Linked DNA regions of Homo sapiens: region 2 is linked to region 1. The links come from fine-mapping of genetic effects on gene expression. A gene starts in region 1. The other region holds a variant in brackets. All regions are shown on one strand. Distances are between the middles of the regions. Region 1 holds the start of ADK (adenosine kinase). Region 2 overlaps ADK (adenosine kinase).

Region 1 (8,287 bases):
ATTTGCCGTGATGAATAAGTAGAGCTGTGCCTAAAGAAAAGTAGGCAGAACTTGAGGCTGAAGGTAAAGAGACTGCTTAGGAAGTCAAAACAAAATCTAAGCAAAAGATAAAGTCTAAACGTAAGGTGTGGCAGCAGGAATGGAAAAGGAAAGACATTATAATGTGGATGTAAAATGAATCAAATATCTAGGTCTCAAACTTTGGAGTAAAGGAGGTTACTGGTGCCATTAACAGATGCAGGAAATATGGAAAAATGCACAGATTCAGGATAACAGATAATTTAGTTTGGTATATATGACTTCGAAATGTCAGAAAGTCACTCAGAAGCACATACTCAGCAGACAGTAAAAATTAAGGTCTGGGAAGGCAGGGCACGGTGGCTCACACCTGTAATCCCAACACTTTGGGAGGCTGAGGCAGGTGGATCGCTTGAGGTCAGAAGTTCAAGACCAGCCTAGCCAACATGGCAAAATCCCGTCTCTACTAAAAATACAAAAATTAGCCAGGCATAGTGGTGTACGCCTGTAATCCCAGCTACTTGGGAGGCGGAGGCAGCAGAATTGCTTGAACCCAGGAGGCAGAGGTTGCAGTGAGCCGAGATGGTGCCACTGCACTCCAACCTGTGCGCCAGAGTGAGACTCCAACTCAAAAATATATACAAAATTAAATTAAATTAAGATCTGAGAACTGAGAGGCACAGAGATAGAAAGGACACATGTGAGAGTGTCTAATACAAAGCCTGGACCCCATACATCTCTGCTTCAGTCAGACTATCTGCACTTCCCCAAGAGGCAGCTCTCTCCCAGTTCTGCCACCAAACAAACTTTCCTATAAGGCAGATACCCTACTTCACAGATACCCTACAGTCACAGATGACTGGTTAACTCCTAGTCATCTTTAAGAATACTCAGGTGTCATTTTCCCAAACCCCACTTATTTCCCACCAAGAGGATGGTACCTGTGCCTTACCTCTTTCTCTCTCTATATATATCCAGTTTTTAACACCATGTCTAAAATAGCATGTACTTGAAAGACAAACTGAAGGAAAAGACTTGGCACGTGCTCAACAAGCCTTGGAAGGCACTGTAGCCTCTTAAGAGGCGATCGCTAAAGAAATGAACTTGGATGAGATTTCCAAAGGAGAGAAAAGAAAACTAAGTTGTCTTAAATATAAGTGATCATCATGGAACACCTTCATCTAGGGAGCAGTTCCCAAAAATGTTTCTCCACTTCTTTCATCACAAAATAGCTCGTCTGTAACACAGGAATCATTGCTCCTACCTCATAGGTCACTGGGAGGGTTAAAAGAGATAACATATATAGAGCACATAGTATAATGTCTAGCACTCAATTAACGTTCCCTTCTTTCCCCTAATCCCACGTGAAAACATGTCAGAGCCTGATTCTTTCTTTATAAGCAACTGTTATATGCTGAAAAGCAACCGAGCCTAGAAAAATAATAGATATTTGAGAAAGGCAGACTAGTCTTGTCAGATGCTCCCTCTAGAACAGATTTCTCAACCTCAACACCGTTGACGTATTTGGCCAGATAATTCTTTGTTGTGGGGGTTGTCCTATGTAGCATGTTTAGCAGCACCCCTGAATTCCATCCACTAGGTGCCAATAGCTCTCCCTACCAAAAATATCTTTCTAGACCACGCCAAATGTCCCCTGGAGGGCAAAATTTCCCCTGGTGGAGAATTATTATCCCAGAGCTGACCAAATTCTCACAAATCCCTAAATCTAAATATTTTTCCTGACATCTACAAATATATCTCATTATTTGTTCCCACTGATGCTGCACATTAAATTATGCAAAGTCTTTATAATCCATTCTCCTTAACCAAAACCAGTAGCAATCCCCTGTCAAGCAAGTCATCATAAATTCAGTGTAAATACTCAATGCATTATCACACTTTGAGTCTGAAAGCAAATTAATATAATAAAAGTAATAATAGCCGATCCTAAAATGTCTCCCCACAAAATTAGAGATTTGTCCCAGTACTCAAGTGTCTAATCTTTTAACTTCATGTCTACAGGTGGCACTAAATTCATATTGTATAAAGTGAATTTTAGTTGCCTAAGGAATGCTCTCACCACAGCCTCACAAAGCACCAGGACTGCAGGTATAAGAAAACATGCTCAGCTAGTTCCTATTTCTGTTCCTGTACTAATTGTTTTATTTGGGCTTCAATATCTTCAATTGTAAAATAGGCATAATTCTTGCCTTCCTTTGATCACAGAACTGTCCAACAAGATAATAAATAGGAAAACACAGTGAAAATGGATCAGCATTATATATAATAATTTTTATTAAGGAAAAATCTAAGGAAATCTAAGGGTTATATGTTCAGTAGGATGGTAGGGAAAAGTTGCATCTGTCTTCCAGTTTGGCGAAGGAGGTGCCTTATAAGGAAATACTCTAATAAAGGGCAGAGTAGGGAAAGCACATGCCTTGAACTCAGGTAGGTCTGATTCAAAAGCCGTTGCTTTTTATTCTGCATATAGTTGGAATATTTAAAATAAAAATAGAATATCCTGAGGGTTTTTATTTTAAAGTTTATGTTCTTGGTATAAGGTAGGCACACTAACCCTTTGAGGGTAGTAGGAATACATTAAAGGAACTGGCAAGGATTTGTTCACCCTCCATTCAAAGCAGCATGAACACACCACCAGGCCCCTAAGTGTCCTTTTCTTTTCAATTGTGAGTGATTCCTTCCTTTGGAGGTGAAGAAGAGTGATACTGGAAGAAATGGGATATGTCCTGTTTAATCAGGAGTGTCCTAATAGTTTTAAATCAGTTTGATATGTCTATTTTAAGATGGAAAAAAAAATCGCTGCCTTTCAGCGAACATTTCCAAATCATCAAAGACTGCCTGCTTCACTTTATACTTATTAGGAAGGGATATTTTAACAAATGACTCTTCATAAGTAAAAGTTGCAACATCAATCACATGTGAGGCAGGTGTTAGGGGCAGCACTGTCCCCGTTGCTGCCAAAAAGTGTAAATAAAAAAGAGAAATCAACCTTTCCTATCCATTCATCCAAATGCTGCCCCTGCAAAGCATCGGAGGGGTCTGGGTCCCTGGTAGAGGGTCCTCAAAGGTACGGGCTTTCAGAATGTGCACGAAAAGGAAGGTCAACGTGCCCTTCCGCAACACTCTGAAAAATCCCCAAGAATTCTGACTTTGCCCCAGTGTACAGCAGTTGCCGAGCCTCTTTCCCGCCATCCCCCGGGAAGAGAAGGCGGCCGCCTACAGACGCTGCTCCGGTCCGACCCTCCGGGGTCGCACCAGCCCAGCCTGGGCTTGCTCGCAGGTGGCGCGGTCAGCCAGCTCGGTCCCCCTGCGGGCCACGACTGGCGAAGGGCTGCTGGAGCCGGAGCTGCACCAGACAGGCGGGGACTCAGCCAAACGGAGAGAACGTCTGGCAAGGGGTCGCGGCCAAGCGGGCAGCTGGGGGAGGTCCTGCGTGTTGGCCCCAAGCTGGCAGTGAGAGACACCACCCAGCGTCGGGGCCGTGCAACCCCACGTGGGCCCTGGCTTGCTTGCAGCGCCGTCACCCTCCTCCCCAAGTCCGGCAGCGCTCACCTCAGCGCTTGCGGCGCCTCCACCTTCAGCTTTTTGGGCTTCGGCTCCTCCTCAGCAGCTGCCATCTTCGCGCTCCCACCCCACTTTGGCTCTACAGCCCACCTCTGCCATCCACTCTCTGGTCCCGCCCCCTCTTCGCATCACCGCTTTCTCTTCTCCAAATCCCGCCCCTCCAGACTCCGCCCATTCTGTGCCGCTGTCATCCACAATCATTGGCTCTATCCGTCGGCACCAACAGCGAATGCCCCGCCCATTCCTGACCCCGCCTCCCCTACCATGAGGGACCCCAGACTGCGTTAGGCAGCAGATGACCGCCTGAATCTAGATGGAGAGAAACCCACCATTTTTCTAGGCCCTGGATTATGTAGAAGATTTAGATACTAAGCCTCAAGAGACGTCTTTCCTCTCATTTACGGTCTTCCTGCATATTTAAAATTTCTAATACGGTAGACAGAGTCGGTGTCTTTGAAGCTGTTAATCAGGCAATTTCCTGGGCACTCCAGCTGCGGGTCCTCGCGGCCTTCTCGGCTTCTCCAGCTTCGGTAGGAGAGGATCCGGCGCCGAATCACTGACTGGCACAGGTGTTGGGGTGAGTGTGAGGGGCGGGAAATCTGTGGACTGGGGACAGCTCCAAAACCCGGGAGTAGGCTGAATAGCTGGGGCCCCCGACTCCGATCTGGGCTCTAGGAGCGTCTTTGGTGCTGTTGGCCCGGGCCTCGCTTCCCCCCCACTCCCGGCCTTCCGGGCTTTCTCGCCAGCAAGGCCAGAAGGGAGCGGTCCACCTGCAGCCCAGTGTTCTCAGGCGCCTGAGCCCCGGAGGTCAAGCTTACTGGGTTCCCCCTCTATAGTGAGCTGGAGTACAGACGGCAGGAATCTCAGTCCCAGGTTTCTGCTTTGGAGGACAAAACCCCAAACGGACCTGAGCAGACGTCCTGTTAGCGGGTGGTGCCTGGAAGAGCCTGGGGTGAGGAATGCAGTGAGAAGGGTGTTGCAGTTCTTCAGGAGAGAGGTAACGGGGTTCTAAGCTGAGCAGGTGGCAGTGAGTGTGGAAGAGTGACGGGCGATGTGGCTGTTTGTATTTGGTAGATTTGTTTGAACCTGAAACTTACAGCCTTATGTGTGATTAAGAAGATGGTGCCAGTGACAGGAGGAGGTATTTTATGGAGTTTGAGTTTTATCGAATTTGAAACAGTGGTTTACATGGAGATTGTAGAAAGACTTTAAAAAAAATTATGAGAATTAAGCCCGAAAGACTTTCAAGGTGAGACCCAAAACAGATGAAGTTTCATATAAAAGGGTAAGAAGTATTTTTGTTTAGGAGAAAGTTATCAATGACATAAAATGCTGCAATGGTCAGAGGAGGAAGCTGAAATCAGAATAGGTCGTTGGATTTTATAATTAGAAAGTCATTGAGCTGTTTGAGAGAGATGCTTTAATAGTAACTGAGGAAAGACTGCAAGTGTAGACCAATCCTTCATCATTTGGGGCATGAAGCAAGATTATTGAGAGTGGCAAGGTGGGGGAAAGTTTGGGGTTTGTTTTAAAGAATACAAGATATCTATTTGGGGGCAGGAAGCAAGCAACTATTTGAAGATTCAAGAAAAAGTCTTGTCTCCCAGAAGAGAAGGAAAGGAATGGGATCAAGTTACAAGTGAAAGGATTAATTTGGGAAAGACAGAGGGACACTTTCAATTGACACTATAGGAGAAGTGAAGTGAATGAGGTTAATGAAGAATTATCTTAATTTACGAATCTTGGCCAGGCGCGGTGGCTCACGCCTGTAATCTCAGCACTTTGGCAGGCTGAAGCGGGCGGATCACAAAGTCAGGAGTTCGAGACCAACCTGGCCAACATAGTGAAACCCTGTCTCTACTAAAAATACAAAAATTAGCCAGGTGTGGTGGCACACGCCTGTAGTCCCAGCTACTTGGTAGGCTGAGGCAGGAGAATCCCTTGAACCCGGGAGGCGGAAGTTGCAGTAAGCTGAGACCTCACCACTGCACTCCACCCTGAGCGACAGAGCGAGACTCTGCCTCGAAAAAAAAAAAAAAAAAAAAAAAAAAAAAAAAAAAAAAACCTTACGTATCTTTAGGAAAGCTCTCTTTGCAACAAGATTATATTTTCTTACTTAATCTTATGATTTTTATTTCTAACCATTTAATATAATATACGGCCAGGCACGGTAGGGCTCATGCCTGTAATCCCAGCACTTTGAGAGGCTGAGGTGGGTGGATCACGAGGTCAAGAGATCGAGACCATCCTGGCAAATATGGAGAAACCCCGTCACTACTAAAAATATAAAAATTATCTGGGCGTGGTGGCACGTGCCTGTAGTCCCAGCTACTCGGGAGGTTGAGGCAGGAGAATCGCTTGAACCCAGGAAGCGGAGGTTGTGGTAAGCTGAGATTGCGCCACTGCACTCCAGCCTGGCAATAGAGTAAGACTCCGTCTCAAAAAAAAAAAAAACAAACCAATATACTATGGGCAGATGGAGTGCGGTGGCTCACGCCTGTAATCCTAGCACTTTGGGTGGGTGAGGCGGGAAAATCACTTGAGGCCAGGAGCTGGAAATCAGCCTGGGCAACATAGCGAGACTCCATCTCTACAAAAAATTTAAACATTAGCCAGGCTTTGTGGCATGTGGTTGTAGTCCTAGCTACTCAGGAGGTAGAGGCAGAATGAGGCAGAAGGATCACTTGAGCCCAGGAGTTCAAAGTTACAGTGAGCTATGATTGGTCCACTGCACTTCAGCCTGGGCAACAAAACAAGACCCTATCTCTTAAAAAAAAATACATATACACATACGCTATGGGAGTTCTTTGCAGATTTAAATATTTTTAAGTAGCTCAGTACTGTGTCAATTCATGAGTAGCACATGGTATTTACAGAGAAGAGGACTTCTCTCTCCCTTTGGAAATGACCTCTCTCCCATTACACAGAGAAGGAGAGCCATCATCTGCCTGCAGTCAAGTATACAAACCTTCCCTTCAATCTGAAGAGTAGAAAGTGTTCCTTCTCCTTAGAGAAGGCAAACCCTTTGACCTAGTCTCTCAGTAGCATCCTCTCCTGCTATGTCAGGGTCCTCTTTCCGTTTTTCCCTCTCTCCTATGTCAGCTTTTCCCCCTCTATTCACACCTTTCCTTCAGCATTTGAATGTATTCTTCCTTCACTTTATGAACTGCTGCATTTATTTTCCTGTCTTTTCATCCTCTTCACAGCTAGACTTCTTGAATCTACTCTACATATCTCTATTTTTTTACACTTCTTGCTATTTATTTCCCAGCCCACTGCAATGTCTTATTTCTAGCATTCCACTGAACTACCACCAAAACTATTTTTTTTTTCTGAGATGGAGTCTTGCTCTTGTCGCCCAGGCTGGAGTGCAATGGCAATCTCGGCTCACTGCAACCTCCGCCTCCAGAGTTCAAGTGATTCTTCCGCCTCAGCCTCCCGAGTAGCTGGGATTACAGGCGCCTACCACCATGCCCAGCTAACTTTTGTATTTTTAGTAGAGACAGGGTTTCGCCATGTTGGCCAGGCTGGTCTCGAACTCCTGACCTCGTGATCTGCCCGCCTCAGCCTCCCAAAGTGCTGGGATTACAGGTGTGAGCCACCGCACCCAGCCCACCAAAACTACCTTTACCAAGATCACCAGTGTCCTCTGTGTGTTAAATCATGCATTCTCAAAGCAGATAAAAACTGCTTCTTGTGAGGTGAAAAAAATATAATACTCTTTTTATGTGTAAAGCACAAATACAATACATAAACAGAGAATATTCTGTGGTATTAAAATTTTATGGTGATATTAATTAGCTTCATTTAATTATTCCACATTTCATAAATCATAACATCTGGTACCCCTAAATATATACAACTATAATTTGTCAATTTACAGTTGAAAAAGAAAGAATAATAAAAAGTTTTATGGGTGAGGAATTTGATTGGCAGGGTGGTGAGAAGATGGAGTCTAAAAGGGCTCCTTAGCAGGCATTAAGGAAAAGAAAGTTTAAAAAACACTCTTAAATCAACAGACATTTTCAATTCTTTTTTGTTGTTGTTGAGATGGAGTCTCGCTCTGTCATCCAGGCTAGAGTGCAGTGGCGCCATCTCGGCTCACTGCAGCCTCCACCTCCCGGGTTCAAGCGATTCTCCTGCCTCAGCCTCCAGAGCAGCCGGGATTACAGGCACCCACCACCACACCCAGCTAATTTGTTGGTATTTTTAGTGGAGATGGGATTTCACCATGTTGGCCAGGCTGGTCTCGAACTCCCGAGCTCAGGTGATACTCCCACTTTGGCCTCCCAAAGTGCTGGGATTATAGGTGTGAGCACCACGCCCAGCTGACATTTTCAATTCTCGTAGCTTAACCTCTTTGTGCCATGTAACAGTATTTACCACTCCATTCTTCTGGAAATACACTAATAAGCTATAGTTACTAAAAACCACCCTGTTTTTTTTTTTTTCTTAGGACTCTTCAGTCACATCTTGGTCATTCTTTAGGTCCACTTCCTTGACCCACCTCCTACTCAAATGTTGGAGTTCCTGCCATAAGCTCTCTTCATACTATGCACATTCTTTCTTTTGTTTCAATTCTCCTTTTGATTAATTCCCATTAACAAAAAATCCTGATTACTTACAATTCTGATTCCAATCTGGCTTCTCTAAAGCACCAGAAGGGTATATATAATAGTTTTTT
Region 2 (8,340 bases), 190 kb before region 1:
CAATGGCAGCCAAATAAATAAATACACAAAACACCAAGAACAGGGATTTATATTATACAAGCAAGTACATGAAATGGAAAACTACCATGAGAGCCAACATACACTGGATTTAGGATTAAGGAGTGTAAATATACTAGAAATCTTTGAAGAAGTTAAGAAGGACAGCCAAAGACAATAAAAACAGACAGCAAGAAGTAAGTTAATGATTGCAAAAATCCTTTTTTTTTTTTTTTTTTGAGACGGAGTCTCGCTCTTGTTGTCCAGGCTGCAGTGCAGTGGCAGGATCTCGGCTCACTGCAACCTCCACCTTCCCAGGTTCAAGTGATTCTCCTGCCTCAGCCTCCCGAGTAGCTAGGATTACAGGCACCCGCCAACACACCCAGCTAATTTTTTTTTTTTGTATTTTTAGTAGAGACAGGGTTTCACCATGTTGGCCAGGCTGGTCTCAAACTCCTGACCTCATAATCCACCTGCCTGGGCCTCCCTAATTGCTGGGATTAACAGGAGTAAGCCACCGCACAGATATACTATGGCAAGTGTAAGAAACCTTAGTATAAACATTGTAAAAATGCAAGTCTAAATGTGAAGGAAACAAATCTAGAGCATCACTTTGAATATACTTATTATAGTATACTATCAAGGAGAAGAAAAATAACTTTAACTTTGAATGTTAACTATAGCACAATGAAATGAGAACAAGTGTTCTTCAATCAAGCTAATAAGATTTCACTCTAAGTTTCTGACATAAAGGATAATGATAGATGTCTAATGAATAGAGTTAATATTGAAATCATTAAGAAGTATTTTCATATTTTATGAGGTTTTTAAAAAAGTATTTCAGACACAATGTTCCAATGTTCCAATAACATTCTACATATTGTACTATGCCTGATATAAATGTACTTTGCAAATGGGCAATAAATTTGCCAGCCATTTTAATCTTTCAAAATTAAGTATTTAAAATTGGTAATATGCAGCATGCTATATAGACAATTAAAACAGTAAAAAAAAGTATACTGAGTGAAAAATAAGTCTCTCACAAACAGCAATTCCTCAGTTTTCCTCCACTGGTTTCCAGTTTCATATGTGTTCTTACTGAATTTCTATTTATGTTATTTCTTGACTCTATTCTGATGCCCAGATCTGTCAATATATAAACACATAATATATATACACTGAAATATACACTGAATTTTCCAAAACAGTCTAGGTTTCTATTCTTTTTAATCAAAGCAAATGCTATGTATGGCTTCATTTTAATTTCTACTTGCTTACAAGTTTCAATAGTAATATTCAGAGTTGTCAAATTAGGAAGCAAGATATATCACCTGAAACCTGGTTTAGACAACATTTTAAAAATTAAAAGTCATCAGGTATATAAATGAAGATTGTCATACTACTCAAAAATTATATGGGAATATAAGGAAACAACTGACTTTTTCTCATACAAACAATACTAAATGCAGACACACAATGAAACAATAAACACAGTACTTTAGATTTTTAACTGGAATTTCACACCTTTTCCTTACCCCTACATCCAAAATACTATTTTTCTGATCAGAGTTGAATACTAAAATTAAATGTAAATTAATATGCTATTTTAAAATCAAACTAAAACCAATTTATAGTAATAGAATATGTTAATATTAACTCAAACAGTTTAAATTCCCTCCTATGTACATGAAAAATGGCCCTTCAAAATGGAAGGGAATTTCATCATCTGGTTTAAAAATAACAATGAAATAAAGAGCAGCACAAACAAGACTACTTTTGGCCTCTGGCTTCTTTCAGTATAGAAGTATTATAAAGAAAAGAGTAAGCCAGTGTTGATATAGTAAAGAAACCTCCACTTTAATAAATCATTTTTTCAGGAAAAGAAGTAGTCTGCAAAATCTGTGAAAGTGATTTATCTTCAGGTGAATAAAATGAACAGTAATTGATCTTGTACCTAGGGAGTGATTCTTCTTCCACCAGTTACAAACATATCTCTGTTAAATATCACTAGAATAGGTTAGGTAATCTCATGTTTTGAATAATTTATTTGCACACTTAAGATTTAGGATTTATTCTAAAGTTTATGTCCAACACCACAGTTTCAGTTGGGCCATTAACTTGTTCATTATTTCATCACTTTTTGCATCTGTAAAATGAGTCCAGCTTTGTATGGGACCATCATAGAAATGACACCAAACACAGATTTGGTGGGTGAAAGAGTTATGTCAGAGGTAAGATGATCATGAAAAAGGGATATAGGCTGAGATACGTGAAATGGGCACAAATTGGTAAAGTGAAGGAAAAGAATGTTACATGCAGAGGAATCTGTATGTTTATGTCAACAAGATATATGATTACCAAACGTTTCACTTCACAGCAAAGAATTTTGAAGAAATCAAGACTGTCTTTTAATTTAGTGTATAAAGTGGATCATTTTAAAAATAACATCTACTTTACTTATATTGGTTATCCTAGAAATTCTGTGAAGAGGCTAAAAAAGGAATTTAGGCCAGGGCAGTGGCTCACCCCTGTAATCCCAGCACTTTAGAAGGCCAAGGCAGAAGGACTGCTTGAAGCCAGGAGACTGAGACCAGCCTGGGCAACATGGTGAGACCCCCATCTCTACAAAAAATAAAAATAAAAAAATTAGCGAGCCATGGTGGCATGCACCTATAGTCCTAGCTACCTGGGAGGCTGGAAGCAGGAGAATCCCTTGAGCCCAGGTGTTTGAGGCTACAGTGAGCTATGATTGTGCCACTGCACTCCAGCCTGGGAAATGGAACAAGACACTGTCTCTTAAAAGAAATTTTTTTAAAAAAAGCTCCCCAAAGTAGACATTACATGCATTGTTCTTAGTGTGTGTGTACTATTCTATAAAATCTTATCAGCTGTAAAGATTCATGTACTCACCAGCACAATTAAGACACAGAACTATTCCATCACCACAAAGAAGCCCTCTCCTGCAACTCCCTTATAGTCATACCTATCCCCTTCTCCCACATTATCTCTAACTCCTGGAATGACAGGTTAATTTTCCAACACTAATTTTTTTTCATTTAAGTAATACTATATAATTGGAATCATACAGTATGTAACACTTTGAGTTTAGCTTTTTTTTTACTTCGTGTGATGAACTTAAGATCTACGGAAACTGTTGACTGTACCAGTAATTTATTCTTTTACAAAGCTTGGTATTCCATTCGATAGATATATCACAGTTTGTTTATCTATTCACCTGTTGAAAGTTATCTGGATTCTTTCCAGTTTGAGGCAATTACAAATTAAGCTGATGTAAATATTTGTGTAGCAAGTTTTTACATATACATAAATTTCCATTTTTCTATGTTAAATACTCAGGAATATGATTGCTGAGTCATATGGAATATTTATCTTTAATTTTATTAAAAATGCCAAACTGTTTTCCAGAGTGGCTGTGTCATTTTCCTATCAGCAACAGATGAGAAATCCATTCATTCTGTATTCTCACCAGTTTTTACTTTCGCTATCCACATATGTATGCAGCAGTATCTTATAGTTTTAATTTGCACTTCTCTAATGGCTAAGAATATTGAAAATATTTTACATGGCTTACTTGCTATTTTATATATTCATTTTTATCATTTAAGTTTTTGTTGTTGTTGTTGTTGTTGTTATCCTAGAAATTCTGTATAGAGGCTAGAAAAGGAATTTAGGCCAGGGGTAGTGGCTCATGCCTGTAATCCCAGCACTTTAGGAAGCTGAGGCAGGAGGACTGCTTGAAGCCAGGGTCTCGCTCTGTCACCCAGACTGGAGTGTAGTGGTGCAATCACAGCTCATTTAAGATTCTTAAATACATTTGTAGCCCAGCGTGGTGGCAGGTGCCTGTAATCCCAGTTACTCGGGAGGCTGAGGCATGACAATCACTTGAACCCGGGAGGCGGAGGCTGCGGTGAGCCGAGATTGCATCACTGCACTCCAGCCTGGGCTACAAGAGCAAGACTCTGACTCAAAAAAAAAAAAAAAAAA[AT/T]CATCCGAAGAGGGAATATACAATATCTTCAAGCTCACAGTTAGTAAGCTCTTCTAGCTAATAGTAGGACAACACAGATTAATATACAAAAAGCTAATGAAGCCAGCTGTAGTAATAAAAAGTAGAGGAGTGTAAGTATAGAAAATTTACTTAGAAATGTCTTTATAGAGATGATTTGATTAAAGCTATTCACTTTGATAACCCAGGAAAGGCACTTAAAATTCACAAGGCATGAGTCAGATAATGTCAGTGTCTGTACAGTATCCTTTGGACCTAACCCTTTCCCACCATTCCAAATTACTTCCAATAGCCAGTATCTTCCTCTGTATCCCTCAGGGCTTTCCTCTGAATGGCTGAATGCTACTCTGCCCACCACAGCACCAGGCAGGTGCAATGTCTTCTGTATGGCAGTCCACAACCAGTAACAGGAAATATACTCACTCTCTCACACTTCAGGTGAGTTAGTCCCGAAACTAAATTTGACACTGACTTTCCCAGAATTATCCCACAAGATAAAGCTCCAGCAACCTATTGTGTTAGTTTAGTTAGTAAGTCTTCATTAGCTGCCTTGCTTTCCTTGCATCAATTCTTGCCTGTTACATACGTCTCCAAAGTAGACTTTGTTCTAAAATCCTTGCTTCAGGGTTCTGCTGCTGGGAAAACTTATGTATGTTAAACCACCCACCACAACAAAATAACTCTCATTAAAAATAAAAAATACTTGGAAGCAAAAGGTAGTGACAATAAATAAGACATATATATAGGCCCACCATATCCATGGGATCTGCATCTGCAGACCAACCAACCAACAGCAGATCAAAAATACTTGGAAGTGGGGGAAATGGATAGTTGTTGAGTCTGTACTGAACAGGTACAGACTTTTTTCTTGTCATTATTCCCTAAATAACACAGTATAACAAGTATTTACTTAGCATTTATAGTGTATTAGGTATTATAAGCAATCTGGGGATTATTTAAAGTATATGGGAGGATATGCATAGGTTATGTGCAAATATTATGCCATTTAAGGGACTTGAGTATCCATGGATTTGGTATCCACAGAGGGTCCTAGAACCAATCCCTTATGGGCACTAAGGGATGACTGTACTTTCCTTTCTCTATTTACTTTTTCTATTTATTATTATTTCATAACTCTCTTCAATTGTAAATTAACAGCATTTCCCCTGCATATTGAAAACCTAATTTCTAATATGTCCATTACATTAAAATTAACAGTGCAAAATTACAGACGTCTACAACTACAAAAAATATTGACCTGTAAAATGCAATAAATTCAACTTCCATGATTAGACAGCAAAAAAAACAAACACATTAAGCTACAGTAATCAGAGAAGTATGATATTGGAGAAAGAAGAGACATATAGATCAATGAAACAGAATATGGAACATAGATATACAACCACATAATTGATTTTCAAAAAAGTACAATGGCAATTAAAGAGATTTAAATAGACTTCAGGGAAGAGTAATGGATCAATTGGATATCCATATGCCAAAGCAAAAAACAATAGCAAAAAACAATAATCAAAAACTCTGTTACAGACCTCACCCAATATACACAAAACTTAACTCAAAATGGATCACAGATCTACATGTAAAAAGTAAAACTATGAAATTTCTAGTAGAAAATATAGGAGTAAATCTTTCTCACCCTGGATTAGGCAAAGAGTTCTTATATGACACAAAAGCATAATCCATTTTAAAAGTACATAAATTTGTAAGAACTTCTGCTCACTGAAAGACATTGTTAGGAAAATGAAAACACAAGCCACTCACTAGGAGAAAATATTTGCAAATCACACATCTGATAAGTCTTGTCTGCAGAACAGATAAAGAATTCTCAAAACTCTGTAACAAAAATAAACACAATTTTTTTTAAAAAAAAGGCAAAGAGTTTGAAGAGATACTTCTTCAAAGAACATATACAGATAGCAAATAAGCATATAAAAATGTGCTTCACATAATTAGGGAAGTAGAAACAAACAATGAGATGCTCCTCTCCCCCTTACAATTGATGTAGTAATAAAAGCTGACAATATCAAGTGCTGAAAGGATGTGAAACCACTAGACCTCTCATATATTACTAGTGGGAATGTGAAATGGCACAGCCACTTTGGAAAGGAGTTTGGCAATACATCTAGTAAAATGAAAATTTATGTTAACACAAAAACGTATAAATATTTTTAGCAGCTTTATTCATAATCACCAGAAACAATTCAAATATCCCTCTAGAGTGGATAGAGACACAAGGTGCAGTACATCACGATGATAGAAAACTACTCAGCCATTAAAATTTAAAAACTATTGACAAAGCAAATGGATGAATCTAAGATGAACTTACGTCAACTGAAGAAAGTCAGATTCAAAGGCTATGCACAACATGATTCCATTTGTGTGTATCAGTACCTCAGGAGAGCTGGAGAAAGCTGGGCTGCCACGTTTTGGCACAGCCAATGGCAACAAGCCAAAAAAATAAATAAATAAAATAAAATAAAATAAAGAATAGGTCTGTAATCACTGTGACAGTATAAGAGGCTAAATTGGAGAAAGTGCCAGCTACCCCCCATTCCATTTTCCCCTGTGGCATGGCACATTGGTCACAGGGCAGGTAGACCAGCACAAATGTGAGGGTTGCATCATTGCCAAAGGGAACCCCCAACAAAAGATTCTGGCAGTTTTACAGACCCAGGAGTCGAGTGAAGGCTAGAGAGGGAAGGGTTAGAAACAGAAAAGTACAAGTCATAGTAGAGAAAGAGTTGGTAAGTGTCTTCCCCTCTTTTCCCCAATAAAGTCTTGACAGAGACACTTAAGGAAAGCCTCCCCAAAAGCCCCACATAAAGAGGCCTCTGAATGAAGGCACCTAGGCTAGGAACGCAGATATGTATAAGAGGATGGCTGGGTCCTTGACTGCAATTCCCCTCAGAGACTATAAAAGCTTTGCACCAAGTCTGCTCTGGAGACCAGCCCTCCCCCTATGAAGCCTGCCAGGAAAACCTCTGTAAATGCCTTATGATCAGACCTAAAAAATCACTCATAGGTTGTTGGCCAGAAGCAGGAACCCTCAATACAAGTCACCGGAAAAGGCAAAACTATACAAACAGAAAATTATGGAGACTGGGATTTGATTTTACCCTATTTAATAAAAGCTAACACAAAAGCCTCTTAACTAATTCATGGATGCAGGCAGAAGACACAAGACTCCTCAGTCAAAGAAAAAACACTTCATTACTTATGACAAAACAGAAGAACATCAGCACATTTGCATCAGTTCCCTTCATCCCAAGTCCTTTGGGGATGCTCAGATGGATGCTATGCTTGTAGTGAGTTTGCATCAGCAAATGAGAAGCACTGAACTCAGGGAATCCACCAATTTTATAGCAAGCAGTAAATAAGCTTGCTTTTTGTCTGGGAACAGATGTTATCTCATGTCTCAAGTTTATCAGCTGCATATATAACCCTGAGAAATGTCCCAGGAAAAAGGGCAGTCAGAACCTTACAGTCTTCACAAACAAGTGAGGAGAACTGTCTCTGTCAACAAAAACAGAGCAGGGATTGCCAAGGGCTGAAGTAGGGGAAAGGAAGACTACAAAGGGGACACAGGGAAAGTTTTGAGGTGATGAAACTATTCTCTATCTTATTTCTGATACTGGTTGCTAGACTGTGCATGTGTCATAACTTGCAGAAACATACACTACAAAGATCACTTTTTTGTATATAAATTATAACTTAATTTTAAAATGGAAAAAATACTTTTGAAAAAAAGTATTTTTTGAAAAATAAATTTATTTGAAAAGAATTTCTTTTCTAGAAAAAAGTAAATCTTCCCTTAAAAAAACAAAAATATACCCAGGACCCTGTGGTACCATCCCTGGTGTCCCTTTCTGCATACGTCTACTTTCAGTTGCCAACTACTTAATGTTTACAGTATTCATTTGAGGTTAATTAATTATACTTTCAGATATGCTTCAATACCTATTCAAGCATTAAATCAGGACTTATAATTTTGAAATCTTTTTTTCTTACAACAGTTTTTGAGAAAAAAATAGATTAAATTTGCAAAACAATAAATTAAAAATTAGTATAGCTTACTGTTGCCTTTCAGCTCTCTCAATCAAGATATCAAAAATAAAATAACATTTGGCAGGCATCCCTTCATACTCCCCACCATGGATATTAACTCACAAATAAGATAAACCCTCAAAATTATTAAATTGCCATTGTTCATGTTTCTCCTATTGACCAATGATCTAAACTCTCATTTTAGTAAGGTTCTAATAGAATGGAACATCTGTTTTATGTTACATGGGAGGCAGCAA

What was found. PIP is the estimated chance that this variant, and not a neighbour inherited with it, causes the effect.
Region 2: its variant is fine-mapped to the expression of ADK in whole blood (INTERVAL, PIP above 0.99).

Annotation. Positions count from the first base shown.
Region 1 is chr10:74,146,648-74,154,934 of GRCh38, reverse strand. It overlaps ADK (adenosine kinase), which reads right to left and starts at 3,714. Exons shown (of 11, transcript NM_006721.4): 1 at 3,592-3,714. The coding sequence starts at 3,656. AP3M1 (adaptor related protein complex 3 subunit mu 1) reads left to right here and starts at 4,107. Exons shown (of 9, transcript NM_012095.6): 1 at 4,107-4,180. RefSeq lists enhancers at 3,364-3,543, 3,954-4,183.
Region 2 is chr10:74,333,424-74,341,763 of GRCh38, reverse strand. The region is part of intron 4 of ADK (adenosine kinase); the gene reads right to left. Among named protein-coding and RNA genes, the nearest start is that of ADK, 190 kb to the right of the region's middle. The variant AT/T (reference allele first, on the strand shown) is at 4,003.